Homo sapiens: one gene and its partners. The protein of the gene in region 4 purifies or fractionates together with the protein of the main gene of each other region. This does not show direct contact. Each region holds a gene or a part of one and is shown on either strand. Other genes may lie near its edges. The genes, in order: ANKRD17, POPDC1, C2CD5, DUSP5, C11orf58, DLGAP3 and PUS7.

Evidence for each region.
Region 1: the proteins of DUSP5 (region 4) and ANKRD17 purify together in Homo sapiens (affinity purification with mass spectrometry, with the first as the bait; one large-scale study listed by BioGRID). This does not show direct contact.
Region 2: the proteins of DUSP5 (region 4) and POPDC1 purify together in Homo sapiens (affinity purification with mass spectrometry, with the first as the bait; one large-scale study listed by BioGRID). This does not show direct contact.
Region 3: the proteins of DUSP5 (region 4) and C2CD5 purify together in Homo sapiens (affinity purification with mass spectrometry, with the first as the bait; one large-scale study listed by BioGRID). This does not show direct contact.
Region 5: the proteins of DUSP5 (region 4) and C11orf58 purify together in Homo sapiens (affinity purification with mass spectrometry, with the first as the bait; one large-scale study listed by BioGRID). This does not show direct contact.
Region 6: the proteins of DUSP5 (region 4) and DLGAP3 purify together in Homo sapiens (affinity purification with mass spectrometry, with the first as the bait; one large-scale study listed by BioGRID). This does not show direct contact.
Region 7: the proteins of DUSP5 (region 4) and PUS7 purify together in Homo sapiens (affinity purification with mass spectrometry, with the first as the bait; one large-scale study listed by BioGRID). This does not show direct contact.

Annotation. Positions count from the first base shown.
Region 1 is NC_000004.12:73,248,799-73,252,298, reverse strand, and holds part of ANKRD17 (ankyrin repeat domain-containing protein 17), read left to right. Parts: intron 1-1,710; exon of another isoform or gene 1,711-3,500.
Region 2 is NC_000006.12:105,096,322-105,099,157, forward strand, and holds the end of POPDC1 (popeye domain-containing protein 1), read right to left. Parts: 3' UTR 501-2,836; downstream 1-500. UniProt on the Homo sapiens protein: Cell adhesion molecule involved in the establishment and/or maintenance of cell integrity. Involved in the formation and regulation of the tight junction (TJ) paracellular permeability barrier in epithelial cells.
Region 3 is NC_000012.12:22,454,043-22,457,542, forward strand, and holds part of C2CD5 (C2 domain-containing protein 5), read right to left. Parts: intron 3,120-3,500; coding exon 2,929-3,119; intron 1-2,928. UniProt on the Homo sapiens protein: Required for insulin-stimulated glucose transport and glucose transporter SLC2A4/GLUT4 translocation from intracellular glucose storage vesicle (GSV) to the plasma membrane (PM) in adipocytes.
Region 4 is NC_000010.11:110,496,643-110,500,706, reverse strand, and holds the start of DUSP5 (dual specificity protein phosphatase 5), read right to left. Parts: upstream 2,801-4,064; 5' UTR 2,586-2,800; coding exon 2,207-2,585; intron 1-2,206. UniProt on the Homo sapiens protein: Dual specificity protein phosphatase; active with phosphotyrosine, phosphoserine and phosphothreonine residues. The highest relative activity is toward ERK1.
Region 5 is NC_000011.10:16,748,647-16,752,146, reverse strand, and holds part of C11orf58 (small acidic protein), read right to left. Parts: intron 1-3,500.
Region 6 is NC_000001.11:34,926,851-34,930,875, forward strand, and holds the start of DLGAP3 (disks large-associated protein 3), read right to left. Parts: upstream 2,801-4,025; 5' UTR 2,601-2,800; intron 1-2,600. UniProt on the Homo sapiens protein: May play a role in the molecular organization of synapses and neuronal cell signaling. Could be an adapter protein linking ion channel to the subsynaptic cytoskeleton. May induce enrichment of PSD-95/SAP90 at the plasma membrane.
Region 7 is NC_000007.14:105,505,272-105,508,771, forward strand, and holds part of PUS7 (pseudouridylate synthase 7 homolog), read right to left. Parts: intron 3,274-3,500; 5' UTR 3,242-3,273; coding exon 2,844-3,241; intron 1,003-2,843; coding exon 918-1,002; intron 786-917; coding exon 684-785; intron 1-683. UniProt on the Homo sapiens protein: Pseudouridylate synthase that catalyzes pseudouridylation of RNAs.

The DNA of each region.
Region 1 (3,500 bases), on a different chromosome or scaffold from region 4:
TTATATCTTCATGTTTTGCCCTTTAATTAATGAAGCAGTTTACATTGTGTGCTGTGGACTGTCATATCTGAAAGCAAAAGCCTTGTCTTACTCATCTGTATATCTCCTGCTATACAGTACCATGTGTCTTATGTAAGTCTTTGTATCTCTGCTAGGTTCTCATGAAGTCCCATCTCTGTAGTAAGAATAACTCATAAATATTTCTTTATTAGCCACCTACTGTGGGAAATCTTTGGGACTTCAAGTCTTGAGGTAACAGAACTTGGTTGCAGCTATTATTTACAGTAGATCCCTGTGGGATGTTTTAATTGAACCATTATTTTTAGTTTAGTCATTTTTAACCTCACCAACTTAACTGGAGTTAGTATTGTGAAAGTTTTCAGTGTTTAATAAGCATCAAAGTAGCATATTTTGACTCTCGGAAATTCACTAGACTATCTGTTTCTGCTGTTACCTGATTATGCCATCTAGTTGATTAGGAAAACAGTTTTTAGGTCCTTGAGGCAGTGCAGTTGCATTTATGACAGTAGTTTATCTGAATTTTTATAAGGATAATTTAATGGGTTAAAAAATGTGGATTTAATGAGGACCTTCATAATTTTTCCATACTTGACCACAGATGAAAGGGAATTTTTACTTCACATTGGTATGCGAAGTAGTGCCTGCTGGTACCACTTATATTTTTGTTAGGACCAGTAGGAGGCACCAACATCCATGGTGTAACCTACACCAAACCTAACTTTTTTCAGCTTTCATCTTTTCAAAAAAAAAAAAAAGTAAGTCATTAGGGAATTGAAGGTGGTGGGTAAATACGAATACCCTTCTAGTCCCTTGAATCTTACCTATCTGGTACAGTTATGTCCATCCACTTCTTACCCAGAAGCAAAATACCCTTTCTGACTTAACAGTGCTTCACTTCTTAACATTTTTTTGTCTTTAGAAATTATTATTATTCATTCCTGAAGGGATGTAGAGTTGTGGGACAATATAGGTATCATTTTTATAATGATTTATAATTTGGGGTTTCAGTTATTGAAAAGGGAAATGTTAACTGTTATTTTCCCCAAGCATGCTATGAAACTTCAAATAATATAGCTCTAATTATTGAAAGCATAACTTAGACTGCCTTCTGTCCTGTGAAACTCATAAACATTACATGATCTTTTAAAGGAGTCAACTTTTTGTGTGTGTGTAGAGATGGCGTCTCACTTTGTTGCCCAGGCTGGTCTTGAACTCCTGGCTTCAAGTGATCCTCCTGCCGCAGGCTCCCAAAATGCTGTGGGATTATAGGCGTGAGCTACTGCATCCAGCCTGGGGTTAGTTTTTAAGTTTACTTCTGAGTGAGACTAGAGATAAAAGAGAGTGGGGAGAAGGAAATGTAAAGATTTTACATTTGAAACATCAGAGTGCTAAAAATAGAAAAATTAGTCGGGCGTAGTGGCTCCCGCCAGTAAGTCCCAGCTACTTGGGAGGCTGAGGCAGGAGAATTGCTTTAACCTGGGAGGCAGAGGTTGCAGTGAGCAGAGATCGCGCCCTTGCACTCCAGTCTGGGCGACAGAGTGAGACTCTGTCTCAAGCAACAACAACAACAACAACAACAACAACAACAAAAACCGTTACAGTACTTGAGGAATTCCTATTGGAGCCATTATTAGTGTCTTTAAAAACAACTCTTTTTTTCTGTTTTTTTTTTTTTTTTTTTTTTTTTTGAGACAAGGTCATCTATGCTGGAGTGCAGTGGCGTGCTCTCGGCTCACTGCAACCTCCACCTCCCGGGTTCAAGCAATTCTCATCTCACCTTCCTGAGTATCTGGAGTTGCAGCGTGAGCCACTGCGCCTGGCTAATTGTTTTGTATTTTTATTAGAGTTAGGGTTTCACCATGTTTGCCCGGCTGGTCGCAAACTCCCGGCTCCAAGTGATCCGCCCGCCTTGGCCCCCAAAGTGCTGGGCTTGCAGATGTGAGCTACTGTGCGCAGCCTTTATAAACAATTTTGATATATGGTGAAATTTCTCAAAGCTTGCTGATCATAGTGAATTATGCTGATAAGAATGGGAAACAAGATTATTGGGAATAAATTGAAAAATATTAAATAGGTTTTTATGCGTCAAGGGTAAAAAAAATGTGTTTTGAGTAAATGATCTGAAATACAGCATGCTTTTTTGGTAAAAGCTTAGTATAATGTAGGGTGAAGTTAAGGCGTTGGCGATAACCAGAATCATAATTCTCATTTTAAATAATGCTATGCTACATCTGCACAAAATAGATTATGTATATTTTTGGCTGCTGTACCATGAAAATGATGACTAAAACGAGGTCTAGAGAGGGATAGTTTAAAAATGATGGTAGGGCTAGAGATGGAATCCATGATTGAGGAGGACTGTAGATTTTACTTAACTATATTCTTTCTTTTTAATTTATTTTTATTTTATTTTATTTTTTTTGAGACGAAGTCTCGCTCTGTCTCCCAGGCTGGAGTGCAGTGGCGCCATGCCGTCTCACTGCAACCTCCGCATTCCAGATTCAAGTGATTCTTCTGCCTCAGCCTCCCAGGTAGCTGGGGCTACAGGCGCCGGCGCCACCACGCCCGGCTAATTTTTGTATTTTTAGTAGAGACGAAGTTTCACCATGTTAGTCAGGCTGGTCTCGAACTCCTGACCTTGGATCCGCCCCCCTCGGCCTTCCAAAGTGCTGGGATTATAGGCGTGAGCCACAGCACCCGGCCGATTTTACTTAAGTATATTCTTATTGCTTATTACTTCATACTCAAACTGACTTATAAGGTAGAGAAAATCATAATGTGTACCAGATAGTGCTATTTCAGTTTAGAAAATAAATTCATTTTTTATTTCTTGAGATTATTTGAAAGTACATTGTAGAAATGGCACATTTATGGAACTGCTTTATGGCTGTGCCTCTCTTGCAGGGAATTTTGCCTCCCCCTTTCCTTTTCCCAAAAATACTATTAGCTTGCCTAATTTAACCTTTCACTTTTTTTATCCCCATCTTCCCCCACAAAAGAAAGGAATAGAAAAGAAAAATACGAAAGTGAAGAAATAAGAACCTGCTCTAAAGTTATTTCTTGGTCTGGGTTTCTTTATGGATCATCTCTTAATTAGCTTAAAAACATTTGATTGAAACCTATTTTGGAAGTATCTATGGAAAGGTTGGTTCCATTAGTTTGGAATTTAGAATAAATATATGTTACCATAGAGATCTATTTTCCTTTCCCTCTTTTCCTGTCAACCTAAATGTGAAGATTGACAAGAAAAGGAAGCCCACCTGTTTGTGTTACAGTTAGTGTTAGAAATGCCTTTGACCCCATTGTTGTCTCTTTCTTTCTCTGTGCCATGTTTATTTTTTTAATGGCATTAATAATGAAAACAGTCTTGTTTCAAAGCCTCTAGTATAGCACATACTAGAATTAACTCCTACAGGAGTTAATTCTTTTACCTGACAAACATTTATTATCTCCTATGTGTGGCTGTTTTCATTGTCTAA
Region 2 (2,836 bases), on a different chromosome or scaffold from region 4:
AAGGCCAAAAGATGGGCTGTCAAGTTTCCATTCCAATATCTAGGACAGCTGATGGGAGAAAACGTGGGTTTCTCAAAGAATAGAAAGACTGTCCCCCTCATCCACCACAGAACAGATCCAGGGAGGTTTTCTGACTCCTTCATGTGACTCCTCATATTGTTGAATCTTAGGAAACTAGAAGGGAGTGAATGTTCAGATGCAATAGAAAAAAAGCTGAAGCCCACTAAGTCCCATCAATAAAACTCTGAAGGCTTCTCCATTGCTGCATCTAGTCAACACTGTCTACACTGCCTTCTGGCCATTTTTTTTTTTCACAGTCAAAGCAGCCAAGATGGCAGGACCTTTGAAGTCAGGTATGACCGACCCACAAGCACCGCCCCTGCTGGTCTGCTCAGAATACAATGGCCTGCACCAGGCCCATCCCCACAACCTTGGCCTTTGGGCATGACATTCGAACAAGCTAGATATATGTAAGAGGAATGAAATAAAAAATACACACATTTTCTAAGTAAGAAATTTATTTGATCAAATGGCAATATATGAAGATATTTTAAACTATAAGGCTCTATCCAGACAAAAAGCATCTTTTTATAAAGTAAGTGTTATCAATTTAAATGGCACCTAAAATCAAAGAATGAGTTTCCTATAAATGTCTGTATAAAGCTTTCATAAAATCCTCATGTATTTTAAAACTAGGTTGCAAGTATAACAGAAAAACCTATAAATAGTACTTAAAAGCAGGTTTCTTAAAATTTATGACACCTACAGTGTGTCACTATAGACAGAGTATTCGGGGGGCTCTGTGACAATCAAACATGGCTGCCATGAGTAAGGGAGCGTGTCCCCTGATGAGCAGAACCGAAGCAGTGATTATGCCTCAGCCTCGAGCTCCCCGCACAGCATCCTACCATTCCAAATTCTTGGGACTTTGAGTTGAGTTGAGAATTACTACAAGAGGAGGTTAGGAAACCAGGATTGGAAAGAGGGAAGGGAGAGGAAACCAAGGCATGCCAGGATCAAAGATATCTATAAAGCAGCTTTATAAATGACCAAGAAAATGGGTTTCTAAAAAACGCAAAATGGTGAGGCCTTGGGGCTGCAACGTGGCATCTGTGAAGAGGACGACGCCACGCCCGCTGGGAAGGGCTGACCTGCATGCCAGGTGCTTGGCTTGGAGCCACCACACGCAACAGCATGAAACTTTCTCTGGAGTGCCAAGTCATTACCTGGAAACACTGGGGACAGGTCAGTGTGTAGCTTATACCAGCTTTCCCCAAAGATTTTTCCAGCAACCAAGTGACTCAGCAACCAAGTGACTCTGTCTTTGGGGCCGTGATGGGAGCTGACATGGAGGAATCTGCAGCTCCAGGTTCTAAGATCAGGAGAGCTTCAGACAAGTGGGAAAACCAGATATAAAGAGGGTGACATACACACACTGTTAGCAGCAAAACGCAAAGGTGTCCAATGATTAAAATGAAATTGAGTGATAGGGAGAAATGGAGAAGATTCCAGAGTGTCAGGGATAGTAACTGAAAATAATTATATAGCACCCATTATTACTAATTTAAGATATATAAGCATCACTGCGGATTTATATAGTGTCTATGCTATTAGTTTAGTAAATATAAATATTTATGAGGGCTTTCAAAATATTTTAAATGACATATACATTCTAATATAAATATTACACTCCAGATTCATACAACTGAGTTGATGTTACATTTAAAGTAGTAGATTTGGGGTTGTATATGGAGTAACTTTTGCAGACCATTTTCTGAACTTTGATCATTCAGCTAAGTAAAGGCCAAAAAACACAGGAAGCATCTTATTGGGAACTTTGGCAGCAAACATGTTTTTATCTATGTATTTATGCATTATACAAAGATACACTTATTCATTTGTATAAATGAATTTAAAGTACTCCATAGGAGATCTTACACTTAAAACACTTTTCTGTCTTCTTATCTGCTTCTTTGAGATCAAGTCTATATGGGAGGCTTCTTCCTTAGAGGTGTGTGTTTAAAAATAGTCTCACGTTTCCCATTCAGGCTAAGTGGCTCTTTTAAGATTCCTAATCTTGAGGTTACAATCTTCACATTGAGACACTGATACACACACATACTTTAATAAAAACAGCAAATGGTCTTATATCACCTACTTTTAGCAGTGTGCTTTTAAAACAGGTTTGTTCCCAGCATTACAGAAAATAATCTCCAAACACATGCATTACTTTCTACTCAGGGAAGGATGTTACATCTAATGACTGTATAGAGTGATTTTGTAAATTAGTCTTATGCGCGTGTAAACTAAATGGGCTGCCCAACTTAACCCCAATGGTTAAAGGAAAGTAGTCTCGGCACTATGACATCACAGTTACACCTGTGCTCTCAGGTACAGGGCGAAAGTGAGAGCGAGAGCGCACGAGAGAGTTCAACCTGAGAGAGCTTTATAATTTCAAGCCTAGGCTGTCATTCACCTTTGCTTCATTTCTCCAAAACAAGCTCCTAATTTAGCTACCTGAAGAGACTGCTGCAGCAGTACAGTGAAAGCAGCCTTTTTTTGAAATAGGGTCTCACTCTGTTGCCCAGGCTGGAGTGCAGTGGTGTGATCTGTGCTCACTGCAACCTCAACCTCCCAGGTTCAAGTGAACCTCCCACCTCAGCCTTCTGAGTAGCTGGGACTACAGGTATGTACCACCACACCCAGCTAATTTTTTTTGTAGAGATGGGGTTTAGCCATGTTGCCCAGGCTGGTCTTGAACTCCTGGGCTTAAGCAATCCACCCACCTTGGCCCCCCAAAGTGCTGTGATTACATGTGTGAGCCACTGTGTCCAGT
Region 3 (3,500 bases), on a different chromosome or scaffold from region 4:
CTAAATAATAGTGCACAGGAAAATCATACTATATATACATGTGTATGGATATAGGAATGCACACAAAATGTCAAAGAATATATATTAAAACATCCTAAATTATCTTAATATACCAAATAACTTAAACTTCCCTCACAATGGGGATTTACTGCATGAATGAACAAACATTGACTGAACACATGTCCAGGCAAGGATTTACTACCTTTACTTTACAGATGATAAAACTGAAGCCCGGAGAATTTGTAATTTGCCCATGACTAGCTATGATCAAATTAGCTAGTAAGTAAATGGCAAGGCAAGAATTCAAATTGTGCCTCCACCTTCAACATCTCCATCATATCATGCTCATCATCATTTAAACAAATTGATGATAAGCCTAAACGATAAAACTTACCTGTTATCTATATCTCTCATTCTGAACCTGAACCATGTTCCAATCAAACTTGCCTTTTTTTCAGTTTCTCAAATGCACAAGCACTCTTCCTACCTCAGGCTCACTGGCACATGTTGCTCCTGCAGACTTTTCATTTTTTTTTTTTTTTTCAGAGAACAACTCATTCACTCCTTGGTCCCAACTTACATATAATGTCTTCCGAGATACCTTCTCTGACTGTGAACTCTAAGTTGAAGTCCATTATATACTCTGATAGCCTCTGTTCAATTTCTTTATATTACTTACTCTCCCTAGTAATTAGATACTAATTATATGATTATTTGTTAATGTCCACCGTGCTCCAGTTCTACTAGACTGTAAATTCCATTAGGTCAGGGACTGTATCTGTTTTGCATACAACTATATGCTAACATCTAGTTCAACAGGTGCATATAATAAGAATTCCATATATAATTGTAAGGAAATAAAATCCAGTAGTTCAGGGTACTTTTCCCATATTGAAAAACAAGCAAAACAGAAATCAAAGGCTAGTCAATAGCTTGAAATGCTTTTCAACCTAGGTTTCCACAAATTCTATTGGACTTATTTACAGTCTAGGAGGAAATTTCCAACTTTAAACTGGAAGTGAAGGGGAAAAATGACTGCAGTATTAGAAAACCATTTTATTGGGTCACATCCTTCTGAAAAGCCTGAGGATCCTACATATAGTTGTATAAAGATATCTCTTTTTGTAGTTAGGGAATTAAGGGAGTTGCTTCAGCCTGCCTCCAACTCAATCATAGTTCAGTATATTTTTTGAGTTTTATCAATTTCCTGTTTATTAAATCAAAAAATTCTGATGACACAGTAGCTACAGAGGATTAATTTTAAAAATATTAATTAACTGTAAGAAAACGACTCAGGCAATTAACACATTTGGGATATGGTGCTACACAATTATTATTATAAGTTTCTGTTGAAGGAAAACCTACTAAGAAGCAACATTTTGAGGTATGGGAGCTTAAGTAGTCAAGAAGGCTTAGGAAATACAATTTTATGGATTCAAAATAGTGTAATATCCATGTGCTACCAAGAGCAAGTAGAAAAGGTTAATTCATAATATATGCCAGCTTTTCGCACCAAATCTTTGTCAAATTTAAATGGATGTAGAAGTATCATCTATTTTAATTCTCTATCCAAAGGCTTTTGAGAATATCTTCATAGTTTATTTTTCATCTTAACGTAATTAAGAGTGATATAAAAACTAATTTATCTTTTTTGGGGGGAAGGATAGAGTCTCACTCTGTCACCCAGGCTGGAGTGCAATGGCGCAATCTCGGCTCACTGCAACCTCCACCTCTCAGGTTCAAGCAATTCTCGTGCCTCAGCCTCCTGAGTAGCTAGGATTACAGGCATGTGCCACCATGCCCGGCTAATTTTTGTATTTATAGTAGAGAAGGGGTTTCGTCATGTTGGTCAGGCTGGTCTCAAACTGCTGGCCTCAAGCAATCTACCCGCCTCAGCCTCCCAAAGTGGTGAGAATATAGGCGTGAGCCACTGTGCCTGGCCTAATTTACCTTAAAGAAAACATCCATCTAATTAATTAAATAATCTGTCAGAAGCTATTCATTTATTTGCACAAAAACATATTGTGTTTATTCCATGCCAGCTACTGTGCTAGGCGCAGGATGGTGAGTATGATATTAAAGACAGTGTGCAGGCTGTTATTCCTAAGAAAGTATAGAAATACTGCTGGTGAAGAAGGGCACAGCTAAGTCATCTTTATAATGAATATACTTTTTAAAAATACAAACTGCAGCTGAAGTAAAATTTGAAAAGGTTATTGGATGTCACACCTCAGTAACTAAAAAATTTCCCTATTCACCATATTAATTTGCTTGGTAGCCCCTGTTCCTTAACATATGACACAACGTAATTTTTTTAAGTTTAAATTCCTGTGTTATAAAAGATATAACAGGCTGACTCTGATTCTGAACTTTTCCCACATCAAGTAAAATATTACAACTTGTTATTTAAAAACCAAATTAAAGTTTAATGATACTCAGTGTGAGGTAAGACTGAAGAAATGTCATCCTCATACACTAACTGAGAGAGTAAAAAATGAGCAGCTTCATTCCTTTCTCAGGAGGAAGAAACAGCAGAGCTAAATTACATAAAGTATCTCCTTAGACATGTATCTGTAATACAGTCCTCTACTATTTCTAAATGTGATCTGTCAAAAATTGCTAAATTACTGAGGAAACGAAGCTGTTCTTTCAGGGCTATTTTAAACTTCTATTTGAACACAGATATTTGTTTTATTTACTATATGATAAGGTTCTAAGATTTCTAACAATAAATAGGTTTAAAACTAACACAATTCTTGTGATAATCCTCGCTGCTAAATGAAATAAACTCTAGACTCAATCCAGATAATTAAAATATAAATAAATATTTGTAAGTTTTTGGCAAAAAATAACAATTTGAAACTTAGTTTTGTTACTAAATCTTCAGAGAAAATTTTTTAAAAAATGAAATAACTTCTATAAAATTACCTCCCGAAGAGAAGTAGTCTCTCGAATAAAAAACATGTTAATTATCCCAAGATACTTAGTTATTTTTGCTCCAGGAATAAAAGAAAGAGGTGTCATCTTAACAACCCCAACTGTGGAATTTGCACAAGGTGGAGCAGAACGATTCCGGAAATTTCCATCACCCACTGGACTTGCTTTTTCAACTGTCATGGCTAAAATTGGAGAAAAATGAGAAAACATTCAGAACAGACGCTGGTAACACAATTATTCCCTGAGGTTTCCAAATAAGTGGTGACAACATTCAGCTGTCTGTGAGGCTAAGCCATGTCATGAAAGAAAAGAAATTATCATGCACTGCATGCAATTAAAAAAGAGAGACAGAAAAACATGAGAGGAAATGCTGGAATGGAATTCTTTTGGAAGAAAAATGGCATTCCTGCAAAAGAAAATGTTGATGCAGTATAGCTACACACACAATGATTGGTTATAAAGTGAAGAAAAAGAAAAAGCGGCTGAGCATTAAAATTATCTGCTGTAGGAACAAATTATTACAAGGAGAGTGTGAAAGTTGTTCTATTTCCCAGTGCAATTTT
Region 4 (4,064 bases):
TGAGTCTGCTTTCAATCACCACCACATCACCAGGGAACAGAGAGAGCACAGATACTATATATAAATAAGCACTGACCACGCAATTCAGTCATCACCATTTCATTTTAGTGGTTGTTTGGGAGACAGGGGATTATGGAAAGTGTCAAAAGGCATTGCCCCCACCAAGATCTGAGATGCCACCAGATTAAAACCTGAACTCCTATCTGCACATGAATTACGTAAAGAAATAAAAATTTTCTCTGGCAACAATTTAAAGTTTAGTAGTGTTATAAGGGTAGGCATGAAGCAATTTCTACTGAAACTTAAAATGCATGTAATTCTTGACCTGGCAATTCTCATGATTTACTGAAAGGCACTGCACACGCAAGAGCACATGGAGAAGGACATCTACCGCATTGCTTGGAGCAGTGAGGCGGGACGCAACCTAATGGTCATTACAGGAGACCGGTTCAATGTGAAACAGACATGTATGATCAGATATGGACAAGTCTCCAAGATCTAGATAGATACAAGAGGCAGGACAGGGACTATACAAAATCAATCTATTTCTAAGATACTTATGAAAAACTATCTAAAGGTAAACAAAAAATAGTTGACGACTGTCTCTGGGGAGTGGAACTGGGTTCTAAGATATGCAGAAGACCCGCTTCTCATCACAGGGCCTTCATGCTGTTCAAATTTTTACCTGTGTATATGTTACCTTCTTTTAAAAAACATTTTAACCCAGTTTTCCTGAGATGTGAGTCTATAGAGCTGCCTACTTTGTGGCGACAACTTCTAAACTGTCAGCAGGGCCAGCTTAGAGAAGCATGGGGAGGAGAGGTGGGACCAGGGAGGGTCTCCTGGAACCTCTTTCATACTACTGAGGCAGAAACTTCTCCAAACCACAGGAGATAAAAACCATATTAGGAAGAGAAAGAAATCAGGAGGCACGCTGAAACCTCTGCAGAGCCAGAGGGCCAACCCTCTATCCCCTGGGGGATAGGCTGTTAGAAGAAGGACGATTACCATCTACCTCTGTTAACTCTCCAACAGGAAATCAACAGGGGACCAGTCAGCAGGAGGTGCTAGCAGAGAGGGGAACTGTCTCCAGAATCTTCCTGGCCCGGACTGTGTGAAACTCAAGTTGCATGGCTTTAAAACAGGCTCCTAACTCGGCGCCGGCTCTCTGCACCGAGCTCTGATCCCCAACACTGTTACATCCCAAGGTGTCCGCGCCAGGGCTGGCACGGCCTTGGGGCCCTGCTGGGGCTAAACCCTCATCTCTACATGTGGGTCAGGTCTCCCCGGGTGTCATTTGAGGTTACAAAGGACTCAAACACAAAGCAGGAGCAGTCATAGGAAGTAACCCAGAAAAAACCAATGCTTTGGATTTTGAGAGTCAATCACCCACCCACCACCAGAAGCCAAAGTTATCTTCCCGGCAGGTGAAATGGGCAGGCCTGTGGCGGTAGCTCCGGGAGGTGTCAAATCAAAGGCCGCAGAATCTCCATACCACCCTGCCCCCGCGCACCTCTATTTCGTGGCTGGCTGGCTGTAGGCTCAGCTCAGGATGGGTCCCAGGGATAATCCTGGGGCGGAGGAAGGAGGAGGTGAAAAGGGTGGAAAGGATGTGAGCTCCAAACTGAGCTAGAGAAAAGACCTAGGAGGGGAGAAGAGGCCGGAGGGAAACAATAAAAAGCAATAAAATGAAATGGAAAGGGAAGGGACTCGCCAGGTCAAAAAGGCAAGGGGGTCGGTGAAGACCACAGCTGGCTAGGCGGGAGGAAGGGGGGCACCACGGCGCCACACCAAGGGAGAGTGGATCGCGACCTGCTGATCCCGCCAGATCAGTCTATCAGGAAGGCCCCGAGCCCTGACCCCAGCGACAGCGGCGAAGCTCGCGTCTGGAAAGGGGGCTCGTGCCCGGCACGAGCCGACGGCCCCCAAACTGCTAAACAGCAGCAGCCCCCGCAGCATAACCAACTCCACCCAGACCACCGGGCAGACCCGCTGCCGGGCGCTTTCGAGGAACGCGGGTGGGGAAGAGGGGGAGCTCTGAGTGCTGACATTTGCAGTGCCCTCCCAAGCGCACAACAAGCCACAGGGTGCAGACTCCTGCAGGTGGTGACTCTCCCGGTCCCAGGGTGTAGGAGGGCGCCCCGGCGCAGGGAGGGGACCCGGGGGCGCCGGAGGGGCGAGCGTGGCAGGGACCCCGAGCGCTCACCTTTGAGGAAGTAGACCCGCGGGCCGGCGGGTAGGCAAGCGAGTAGCGAGGTGAGGACGACACGCGCGGCGCTCTCCTCTCGCAGCTTCTGCCAGTGGCGGCTGCCCTGGTCCAGCACCACCACGGCCGCGACGCCGCCGCCGCCCTCCTGCAGGAGCCGCGCGCGCGCCGCCTCGTCGGGCAGCACGTAGCGCGCCGACACCGCGCCGCCCCGGGCCCGCCGCAGCACCACCGAGTTGAGGTTGACGTTGAGCGAGCCGCGCACGTTCGAGGCAGCGAAGGCCAGATAGGGCCGGCAGTCGAGCACCACGCAGCGCGCCGCCGCCTCCTTGCGGAGCATCTTGCGCAGCTGGCGCCCGTCGAGCGACGTGACCTTCATGCCGCCGCCGCCGCCGGCCAGCGGCCCCGCGCCGCGCGCCCCGCGGGTGCCCACGGCCAGGGTGTCCACGGCCAGGGTGTCCGCGGGCGAGGCACGGGAGGGCGACCCGCGGGGCTGCGGCCGCGACGGAGCCCGGCGCCCGAGCGGCGGCGCAACTCCGCGTTCCCGCCCCGCTCGCTCGATAGCCAGCCCGGCCGCTCGCCGCCCTAGAAGCCGGGGATTCCGCCGGCCGCGCAGCGTTTTATGTGAATGAGTGCCGTCCGTGACGCGGCTGCCCATATAAGGCCAAATATGGGTGTTTCCCCGCCCCTCGGGCCGTGGCCACGCCCTGCAGGGGGCGGGGCAGCGGGGGCGAGGGACGCGCGGGGCGGGTGCCGGCGTTAGAGCGAGAGGAAGTGGAAGGCGCCTCTTCGTTCTCTCTTCCGCGCTTCGCTGAGGGACTCACTCGCGCATCACCCGCGGCTGCCGGTCGAGTGTCCCAGGCGCTCCGGGGCCGCGGTGACCCTCGCGGTGCGGACCGAGGAGGAAGCGCCGTGGGGGGCGGGGCGGCGCCGCACGATCCGGCCTTCAGCTTCACGGACGTGGGCTGAGAACCCGCCCGCGCCGCGCTGAGCAGGGCCGAGGGAGCCGGCCAGGGCCCCAGAGGAGTCCGGAACGGATTCCCGTCGCTACCGAGGTCTGCGCGTGTAAGGAGAGGACGTCGGAGATTTGCCTCGAGGGGTGGGGTATAGATGACTGGAGAGGTCAGGCGCGGGTTGGTCATCGCTGAGGCTGGGTGATGGGTGGCCGGATTCGTTATACTGTTTTCTCCACTTTTCTGTATGTTTGATATTTTTCATAATAAAGTTTGTAAAAGTAAAAACGGGGGTTGGGGGTCGGCGGTGAGAATAGCCATTTAATCTTCCTAAATGGATTCTGCCCTCAAAGGATTGACGCTCTTTTCTCTGTCACTCTCCAATAATGATTAGAATAATAAGTTGTATTTTGAGGAGCTGTTTTCTGGTCCCGGGGAGACCCTTGGTGAACTCAGCAGTACCATCAGCATGTATCCCACGATGGAGCTCAGTTCAGCCAACTGTTGTCCAGGTGGCTTCTGGATTTGGGGGATTATCTATGGATCAAGTTTAATCTCAGGCTGTCTGCCCCCACCGGTCCCCAGGGGCTTCAGGCCTCCCACCCCTATTCCTGGGGAAGCAGACACAATTCACCCATTCAGCAAGCATTTATTGAGGGTCAGCCGTGTGCCAGGGCTTTGCTAGCTGCGGGGACACATGGATGGAAACAGGTTTCTGCCCCCAAGCTCACTGCCAACCATTTTATTGTTAGCCTGGCTGGGACTGCTTGATGGAAAACAGTCTGCCCGCACTAGACAAGGGCTTGTTGACAACTGACATAAGGGAATGAGGTTTTCAGAAGGAAGCAGAGATCAAATTTTGAAATCAGATGCAATCAAATCAGACACCAGGACAGCCAGCATTG
Region 5 (3,500 bases), on a different chromosome or scaffold from region 4:
GCTTGTTTTCCCTGCAACTAGACGGTCCCATCTAGGGGTGATGGGAGACAGTGACACCCTAAGTGTGTTGCTTATGTCCAGTCTACTCTGTAATCTTGTTTGGCTGCTGTCACTACAGAAAACCCTGTTTCACAAAGACAGGAGGTTGGAAATGGAAGCAGGCTTTCCAGTGCTTTCGTGGCAATCTCAGGATGTTCCACTTTGTCTTTAATCCAGAATGTATGGAGATGTGAAGTTGTCTCAAACATACTTTTAAGGGCAACATCATTTGTGATCTTAAGCAGCTGATCCTCTTCTAGCATGAACAAAGTCGATTCACCTGGCTTATTCACAAATGGGTTGTGAATCCATTCCTTCCCAGTTCGGGGCTCTTTCGTGGCTGGAAAATAATACTCAAACTCTTTGAAGGCTGAGATAGGTGATCATGTGCCAGCTGGGAGAAAAAAGGTCCTGGCTCAGTCTCTTTTAAAATCTCTGCTAATGTTTGAAACATGTCAAAAAATCCCAATGTTCACTTGTGGCCCCCATAATACTAGTCTGGCTTTGAATGCAGCCACTCTATCTGCCAACTTGAACACAGTTTTGTTCTCCCCTGAGGTGACAGATTGAATATGTCACACAAGTAAGCAAGTTTTTTTTTTTTTTTCGAGGGAGTCTCGCTCTCTTGCCCAGGCTGGAGTGCAGTGGCATGATCTCGGCTCATTGCAACCTCTGCCTTCCAGGCTCAAGTGATTCTCGTGCCTCAGCCTCCCGAGTAGCCGGGATTATAGGCATGTGCCACCATGCCTAGCTAATTTTTGTATTTTTTAGTAAAGACGAGGTTTCTCCCCTTTGGCCAGACTGGTCTCAAACTCCTGGCCTTGAGTGATCTGCCTGCCTTGGCCTCCCAAAAGTGCTGTAATTACAGGCGTGACCCACCATGCCTGGCCAAGTAAGCAATTTTGTGACCCAATTCTGTGTCAACGAAATGTGCTGCCAGTGGTGACTTTTTCTAAAATGAAATCTCTGGAGCAGCTATTGTAACTGAAAAACAGTGGCCAGTGATCTACCTTTAGGAAGCCGTCTCTCTTCTGTGTATAAGAGAAGACGTGTGCTCTGTGTCTATCTTCTCACAGAGCTACATGAACAGATGTGAATTAAGGGCATGTACTTTAATGTGGTTGAAAATTTTAAGCACATCCTACAAAATGGTAAGTTCAGGTGGCATTTTCCAACTAGCCAGCATCTCTACAGATGACACAGTACACAGACTCACATTCAGAAGCAAGCTCTTTGACCTGAGTAGTGAAAACAGAAAGCCGTCCAGTCATGGCAGCTGCTCCATCCCTGCATATATCGATACAAAATGACCAATTCAGTTTTCCTGATATGTATTTAAAGACTTGAATAGTTCTGCAGCTGTGGTGTTGGTTGAAAGCAAAAGTGCACATAATATATCCTCATGCACATCCTCCTGAAAAATGTATCACACAAAAACAAGCATTGTTGCCTTGCTGTCAACACTGGTAGACTCATTAACCTGGATTGGGTACCACAGTGACTCATTAATTCTAACAACTGTGCCTCATATCCTCTATTAATTCATCTAGCTATGGTGCTAGCCAGAAGAGGAACATGTGCCACCTTTTGAACTGCAGGCTCTCCTAAGAGTTCACAACAGATGTCCTTAGCAGCAGGCAGGATCAACTCTTCACCAGTAGTAAAGGCCTTCTTAGCTTTAGCAATGTGATTAGCCACTAAGAATGATGCTCTCACTGCAGACACATTTGATGAAGTGGTGGCCTTCAATAATTACTTCTGTTCTTTGCGTTCACGATTTTTTCTTTTGAAAAACTCCAAAGGCTTGTCTTTTAATGCAGGGTGTTTGGTCTCCATGTGGTGAAGCACTTTTAAAGGTTTCATGGCTTTTCTGGATAGCTGGTCATCACATATTAGACAAAGCAGGTTTGGAGAATGTGAATCACCTATTGCAATGAACCTACAATTTAAGTAGGACTCTTGATATTTTCTTTTAAATGCCACTTTCTCTTTGTTGGCAGTATTAGAGTCTTCTGCTGTCTCATCATTGGGTCTTTCCCCCTTTTCAAAGAAGCTCTCCAAGGACGTTTGTTTTTTTACTCATTTTGGCTAGGGTTAGCTTGTGGGCTTACCAAAACTGTGACTGAGACAAATGCACAGTGCAGGAAAGAGACATGGATGGAAGTGGTAAATAAGTAATGGGCAGGCCACATGCAGATTAAATGTCAGATTCTGACTTAAAACCTGCCACTAGATGCAGCTTGTTACTTGCCACTCACTGAGAGGGTTTTGATATGAGTCTGCAAGCAGTTGATTGATTACGGTCTCTGTGCAGTCAAGCCTCTCTGCTAATGTTAATCTGTTTTTGCAGCCACTCCCCATTACCACCTCAGCTCCAATTCAGATCATCAGGCATTAGATTCTCATAAGGAGGCACAACCTAGATCCCTGGCTTGCACAGTTCACAATAGGGTTCATGCTCCTATGAGAATTTAATGCTGCCAATGATCTGATAGGATGCGGAGCTCAGGTGGCCATACAAGCCATTGGGAGCAGCTGTAAATACTGATAAAGCTTCTCTGGCTTGCGTGCCACTCACCTCCTGCTATGTGGTCCAGTTTCTAACAGGCCAGGGATGGGTACCGGGGATTGGGAGCTCCTGCTTTAAAGCTCTCAGTTTTAAAAGAGTAAATGTGGCAGTTGAAATATTTTTCCATTCTGCAAAGTTCAGGAATTGTTTTTTGCCTTATGTAGCAATACAAATCAATTTGAAGTAATTGTTTAACACTAGAAAAATAAAAGATCTATGAATTTCTAAAATGTGCTACATATGCTGTGTTAGCATAATTTAAATAACTTAAAGTTTTGTTAAACATAATCTAGGTCAATGTGTCTTTTATTAATATGTGCCTTTTATTACTAATGTCCAAGATTAGGGTCAGTTTTAAATAGGCAAAAATTTCACTTTTCAGCACACCAAATACCCAAATTCATTTTCAGTTTTTATTTAAAAATGTTCTTCCCTAAAATTATTTTAAAAGCTTATTTCTTTAGGCCCTGCAACTAGTTTATATTCTTCAAAGATTTTAAAACAAAATTTAGTGAATACACAAAACCAAATGCCAACTATGACATTATATGCTAATATACAAAGAACAAAAATTCTGTACATACCAGAGTTAACAAGTTGAGGCATAAAACCTCACTACAATTAAAATATATGTTCTGAATCAGTAAAAATGGAGACAGAAAAAGGTTAGTTTCTTGGTTAGAATATCATAATGACATATACTCTCTCATCTTTTAAAAATCAAAGTACATGATAATTGATACTTTATATATGTAACATGTTTACCTATTATACATTTCTAATTTTTTTTTTTGGAGACAGAGTTGCACTCTGTCACTCAGGCTGGAGTGCAATGGTGCTATCTTGGCTCACTGCAACCTCCGCCTCTCTGGTTCAGGCAATTATCGTGCCT
Region 6 (4,025 bases), on a different chromosome or scaffold from region 4:
TTTCTCTATTCATTAGGAACCCAATAAGGTAAGGAATGGTCTATCCAGCTAGAGGCAAAATGCACTGGAAACTGGGGAGGATGAAGGAAAACAAGCTTAGCCAGCTCGAGCCCCAACATCAGCTGGAAGAGATGATGTTAGGTGTCAGGCAGCCGCTGAAAGCAGGTACTAACATGAGAAAGTCTGGGAGTCTGGCCTGTAGCAGCTCCAGCCCCTCACCAGCAGGAATCAAGACAAGACAAGCCCATGGCCTACCTCGGTGGTGGGTGTGGCTAGGAATCCCTATCCCCAGCGACATCTGTAGCGCCCTCTCTTTGGCAAGGAGTCCCAAGCTGAAAGATGTACAGCCTTAGGCTTTTTGAGTCTTCATTTCTTTTCCAAAAATCCCCTGTACTCAGCTCTGATGGGGGTGGGGAGAGTTCAGGAATAGAAGGCAACATGGAGGATTGCAAAGTTCCTCGTCTAAGATTAGCCTAGGAACTCACAAATTCGTTGTGTGACCTTGGGCAAGTCCCCTCCCTTCTTGGGGCTTCAGAGTCCCCGGTTTGTAATGAAGAGGTTGGACCAAGTCAATACTAAGGTTCCTCTCCTGGCCATCATTCTACAGCTACATACAAGCTCACTCGTTGGATGTGAGCCCCCTGGCACAAAACTCAGCGGGCCCTGCCTGCCAGATCAGTGGGGCAGTGGCGGGTGGGAGATGCGGGGGCTGTATGTGAGGCCGTTCATCCTATGTTCATGTTCCTTTTAGAAACACCTGCCACCCTAGCCCTCCCAGCTCCCTTTTTAGACCCTGATTCACTGCCAACTCACGAAGCCTCTCCCTCCCCTCCCTCCTCTCTTCTCCCCCCACCCCCCACTCTTTTAGGCATTGGCAGCTGGGTGCAGAAGTAGCCCCAGCATTCAGGGAATGCTGCGCAGTGGTAGAGGGCAGTGCCCCCAGGGTCAGAGAGAGCACACCAGGAAGTACCACTCTCTAACCTTGGCCCAGCCCAGTTCTTTGGGTCACTGAAAGACCTGGGCTGAGGTCTTTCTGTACCACTAACTAGCAGTGTGTGGTTGTGGAAAATGCAATTCATTTCTCAAGCCTCAACATCTTCATCTGTAAATCGGCATTATATTTGGTTGAACCATATGAAATTGCTGTTTTTGTAGGTTAAATAAAAACAGTTGAATATTGCAGTTGCATATGGCTTAACGTGATACCTGTCCTGCCTGCTTCCCAAGGCTGTTGGGGAAATAAGAAGAGTTCAGAGGGCAGCATTTTCAAAAGCCCTGAACTAATATGAGGGCATTATTTTATTATTATTACTTCAAAGAGCTTAGTACAGACCCACCCGGAGCCAGTGGACTGAACCAATAACCCAGAACTTGAAGGTTTGGGACTTGGAAGTCTGGGAGAGCGCCACCTGCTCTGATGACTAACAGGGCAGACGCTTCCACCTGGCCTCCTCATCTCCTAGCTCTAAAAGGCCCTTGGTGAAACATTATTGAGATGACACAAGTTCCCAGGCCCCCAAAAGGAGAAGCAGCACACGCAGGCACATACTCCAGCTCGCCCCAGATCCCCCCTCCCACCCACCAGGGGCCTTAGCATGCAGGAAGGACACGACCAGCAACATCCCAGAGGGCACCCCCTGAGGTAGGTGAAGGTAGAGACCAAGCTGGGGAGTGCCACAAAGCTCTTGCCTGAATCAAGGGTCAGGGGTCCCCAGAGAAGTGGGGAATGATCTGACCTCGGAAAAGTCTCATCTCCCTGTCCCATATCCCACCAGGAATGGGGGGACAGTGGGGGGGACAGAGCCCAGGTGTGGGTGATTCAGAGTGAACCGCGCTCAGATACACTCTCTCTCACACAGCCAACGCACGCGCGCGCACACGCACACACACACACACACAGTCACACAGGGCAGATACCGGGACCCACTCACAGAGACAGTCACGCCGGCACACACATCCATTCACACACTCACAGACACACACAGGCACACATGGGGACAACACACACTCATTCACTCACATGTCCACAGATGCATACACAGTACCACCCTCCACACTCACGCTGCATACACCCACTAACATGCACACACACTCTCGCCCACAGTGACACACGCACACACTCACGGCATACACTCACCGGCACACACAATCGCCCACAGACCCACACAGTGACACACTCGGCACAGACACACAGCGACACGCACTCACATTCACACACCTGCAGAGGAAACTTCTCTCCGGATCTCCCCAGCACCACGACTTCCCCCACAACCAGCTGGCTACTCCCTCCCAGACCCGAGCCTCCAGCCGGGCGAGGGCTGGGCCGGGGCTGGCCTGTCCCCGCGGCCCTGACCGGGAGCGTGGGTCCGCGGTCCGCGTGGTCCCCTGCCCGCCCCTCGGGTCGGGCCCGCGGGCAGCCAGGCCGGGGCAGGAGCGGGGGCAGCTGAGGAGGCCCAGCCCCTCCCCCCTCCCGGGGCCGGGAGCCGAGCGCCGGAGCCCGGGGCGTGGGCGGCGCCGGGGCCGCAGCCGGGCCGTGCCTGGGGGGCGCTGCAGAGGGAGCCGCGAGCGCGGCCCCGTCCCCACTCCTCCCCGCGGCTTACCTGGCCCGGCTCGGGCTCCGGCCGGGTTACATGGTGCCGGCGGCCCGGGCCGGGGGCGCTGCGGCGTTGGGCAGGCGGGCAGGGACCGGGGCCCGGCACTGCGGAGCCCCCAGCTGAGGGGCCGCGCCGGCTGCGGAGCCCCAAGCGAGCGCCGAGCGGCAGCGGGCGCGGGAGCGGGAGGCGGCCAAGCCACGGAGGCTGGATTTCCCGGGGACCGGGAAGGGGAGGCGGGGGGATCCCGCCCGCGCGCTCCGCCCCCGCCCCCGCCCCCGCGCAGGGCAGCCGAGCAGGGAGAGGGAGAGGGAGAGGAAGAGGGAGGGGGACCGAGCTCCCCGCCCCCGCGCGGACCCAGGAGGGCCGAGGTCGCCGCCCGCGGGCGGCCGCCGGGGTCCCGGAGGAGCGCCCACCTCGCTGAGCGACGGTGCTGGGGGCGCCCAGCGTAGGGGCAGGAATGAGATCCCCCTCCCCGGGGACCCAGGAACAGGCACCCGAAGTGTCACGGCCACGCACAGCCGACCTGGGTACAGGGACCCAAGCCCGGCGGCGGGCGGGCGGTCGGGGACCAGCTCAGCCTCACGGACCGGGTCTCGCCCCCCGCCGAGGGGCAGTCACGCCCTGAATGTCACACACAGCCCCCAGGCCCGTCCGCTTAGGAGACTCTCCTTCGGGCTTTCCCGGTCGGCCGCCTGACCTCAGCTCCTGGCTTGGGGTCAGGGAGCCCCCCTCTTCGGCCCCAGCCCCTGCCAGGATGGGGCGCTGTGCCCGGCCTCGGAGCCGCTGGCAGGCGTCCCCCACCCACAGTCCGCACAGCCGAGGCATCCCCAGTGTGGAGGGAGAGCCCCGCTGTACCTGCCGCCTGTGCTGGGCCCCCGCCCGTGCCCACTGTGCCCGCCCGCCTCTGGGCCCTGAGCCTGGGATTGTGCCATGGCGGGGTCGGGGTGGGGGGAAAGGGACTGTCCGAAGCACAGCTGGAGGCTGCGGAGCCCGGACACAGGCTGCGGGAGCCGAGAGGCGGAGAGCGGACTGCAGCAGTCCCCTGGCTTGAATCCGTCTTGGCGCCCAGAGCGATGCTGTAATGGGGGGGAGGGGGCCACGGTGGGGAAGCCGCAGGGGGAGGGGCTGAAGACGTGGGGGAAGGGGTGGCTCCGGATTCCGGCTTTCCAGGGTAGGTGTGAGGAAACACTGCCTCCGGCGCTGAAAGTTGGGGGTGGAGGTTCAGTGGGCATCCTTAAAGCCCTCTTCCCTCCTCTACCTTTTCCGGTCTTGAAAGCTTGGGATGGTGAGGTGTGGGCTTGGGAGGCTTGAGACTGCCCACCTCTCTAGGAACATACCTTGGAGTTGTTCTGATTCAACGGCCCCCACCCCGCACCCCAACAACTCCCTGCTCTCTGTTTCCTTGTGGGGCCACCGGCTCTCCTCCCTGTA
Region 7 (3,500 bases), on a different chromosome or scaffold from region 4:
GGATTACAGGTGTGAGCCACCGTGCCCGGCGAACAAAAGCTTTAACAACAAAATTTACTATTCTACTTAGTAGCTGAGCTCTCCTTTTCTTCAATAGCAGAATTGACCCACGATGAGCAAATAAATGCTCCCCTACTTCCTTTCCCCATTTCCTCCCCTTCCCAGAGTCCCAACTGAGGCCAAGAAGCTGCTGAAGCCAGAATCTGACCTGGGTCACATACCTGACAGACAGCAAATGGTGGTCCTGTTACAACGGACATTGTGGTATAATTGGTACTCTGGGATTCTAAACAACATATGTCGCTGTTCATTTGTGGTCCCTAAATTTTTTTTTCAGAGATGATGTCTCACTATGTTGTCCAGGCTAGTCTCCAATTCCTGGGCTCAAGTAAACCTCTGGCTTCAGCCTTCGGAGTAGCTAGGACTTTGGAATAGCATGTAACACTGTACCCAAATAAAAATGTTTTTAAACAAAAATGTAACTTTGGGGGGGGCTATAGTTTATCTGGGATACTAGTTATCTGCCCCAGTAAAAAAATTTTTTAGTGTAATATCCTTTAGATCCAATAGAGCAAAAAGTCACCCTTTGTTAACCATTGTAATTTTTTCCATAAACACTTAACATCCACCCAAAAAGCAACTAAAACCCTAAATAATTTTTCATATATTTTTGCATTAGTTACCTCAATGGCAACACTGGTTTCCTTATTTTTGAACAGCTGGAGCTCTTCCAATCGCTGCTTTTCTTCAGCTGTCAAAACTGTAAATATGTCTTCTGAAGGGTCCTTTAAAATAACCATGAGAACTCACAATGAATCATACATAGAATTCAAGTTTAATAAAGCTCTATATTTCTAAATCTCTAGGAAATGCTATTTTTATACAGAAGGTGACATTTGCTAAAGAGCTACTTCTACCTCCTCATCCACTGGAATGGACAAGTCATTCAAATGGCTGATCCGTCCATCTTTTCCTATTTCATGAACAACGAAGTCGGAGTATCTGATGAAAGAAAACATGAACTTTCAGATAATTAACATCCTGTTTTCTATTAATTTTAAGATAAAGTTGATCAACAGCAAGCCTTACTATTATGCAAAACAAGGAATTTTAAAAAATCTTCAGTGCAAAATCACATGGAGTTAATTTTTTTTTTCTTTTTTTTTTTTGAGATGGAGCCTTGCTCTGTTGCCTAGGCTGGAGTGCAGTGGCTCGATCTCCACTCACTGCAACCTCCGCCTCCTGGGTCCAAGTGATTCTCCCGCCTCAGCCTCCCGAGTAGCTGGGATTACAGGCACGTGCCACCACGCCCAGCTAATTTTTGTATTTTTAGTAGAGACGGGGTTGCACCATTTTGGCCAGGCTGATCTTGAACTCCTGACCTCAAGTGATCTGCCCATCTTGGCCTCCCAAAGTGCTGGGATTACAGGCGTGAATCACCACATCCGGTCTTTTCTGGTTTCTTAATGAATGCTGAGCCATACCTTGGCTCAAGTTTTATATGAGAACTTAAAGAAAAGACCCTCTTAGCTTCTAGAATATTCTTCCAGAGAAATGCAAAAACAAAAGCTTATTAACATTACCCTATGACGATTCAGGCAGCCCACACTAAATTAAATCACAAAATATGCTATATGGTTAATTGAATCAGAACCCAGTAAGTCTACCATGAACTAGCCTGAAGCTTACCTTTATGTTAAATATTTTACATGCATTATTCAAAATCCTCAACAACCCCAATGTGGTAATATGATCCATTTAAAAATTTTATTTTATTACTATTATTTTTTTTGAGACAGAGTCTTGCTCTGTTGCCCAGGCTGGAGTGCAGTGGCTTGATCTTGGCTCACTGCAACCTCCGCCTCCTGGGTTCAAGTGATTCTCCTGCCTCAGCCTACCGAGTAGCTGGGATTACAGGCGCGTGCCACTACGCCAGGCTAATTTTTGTATTATTAGTAGAGACAGGGTTTCGCCATGTTGCCCAGGCTGGTCTCAAACTCCTGACCTCAAGTGATCTGCCCGCCTTGGCCTCCCAAAGTGCTGGGATCACAGGCGTTAGCCACCGTGTCTGGCCTGATCCATTTTTTAAATAAGGATGCTGAGGTTCAGAGAGGCTAAGTAACTACTAAGTAGCGAACTTCACACTGGGATCCACCTGGCTCCAAAGACTACCTTCTTCTAACATAGTTGTGGCACATTCAAATGAAAAAAGAGTTTAAGATTATAAAACAAACTCAGGAGAAAATCTGAAACCATTTAAATGAATTTATTCATTTACTTATTTTTTTGAGACAGAGTCTTGCTCTGTCACCCAGGCTGGAATGCAGTGGTGCAATCTCGGCTCACTGCAACCTCCACCTCCCAGGTTCAAGCTATTCTCCTGCCTCAGCCTCCCGAGTAGCTGGGATTACAGGTGCCCATCACCACGCCCAGCTAATTTTTGTATTTTTAGTATAGATGTGCTTTCACCATGTTGGCCAGGCTGGTCTCAAACTCCTGACCTCAAGTGATCCGCCAGCCTCGGCCTCCCAAAGTGCTGGGATAACAGGCGTAAGCCACTGTGCCTGGTGAATGAATTTATTTGAGGCATGATCATGCCACTGCATGCCAGCCTGGGTGACAGAGTGAGACCCTCTCTCAAAAAAAGGGAAAAAATTAATTAATTAAAATTTAAAAATCCAAGGCTATTTATTCAGGCAGGTTTCCTTCATCCTATTCCTTTTGATCAGTAGTATAAACAAGCCTTGGAGATGGAAAGCTAAGTGGAAGAATATAAAGCTAATTTCTTTCTAAAGAAGAAACCTAATACAATCAAAATAACTTTATTCATAAACTAAATGTACCTTTCTTTTAAGATTCCCGAGAACCCTTGATGAGAACTCACAAACTTGGTGATGCCTACGTCAGCCTCAGTGAGTCCATGCTTCATCATGTCTGCAAAACTCTCTGATTCCTCCTCCTCGCACTCCTCTGAAAGTCCATCTTCCTCCTCTTCTTCCTCATCTTCCAACTGAGCCTCAGAATTCTTTCCACCTTTCCCAGTACTGACAGTGTCAGGAGGCCGAGGCACGTCTTCACTGATGGACAGAAAGTCATTCTGTAGCCCATCTTGACCTTTGGTTAGACTGCATTCCGACAGCTTCTGTTTTTTTGTCTCTTCAACTGGGACTCCACTGTCATTATCTTCGACAACCAGTGCCCCACGTTTCAGCGACACACCAGTCATTTCTGTCATCTCCATCTTTAAGGCTCCAAGAAAACATTTAAGAAAACCTGTTAGGAAAGAGTAGAAAGTAACAATCACCTATATAAAAGCTGGTTTCAGGCCGGGCGCGGTGGCTCACACCTGTAATCCCAGCGTTTTGAGGGAGGTTAAGGCAGGCAGATCACTTGAGGTCAGGAGTTCAAGACCAGCCTGGCCAACATGGTGAAACCTCATCTCTACTAAATATTAGTTAGGCGTGGGTGGCAGGCGCCTATAGTCCCAGCTCTTGGGAGGC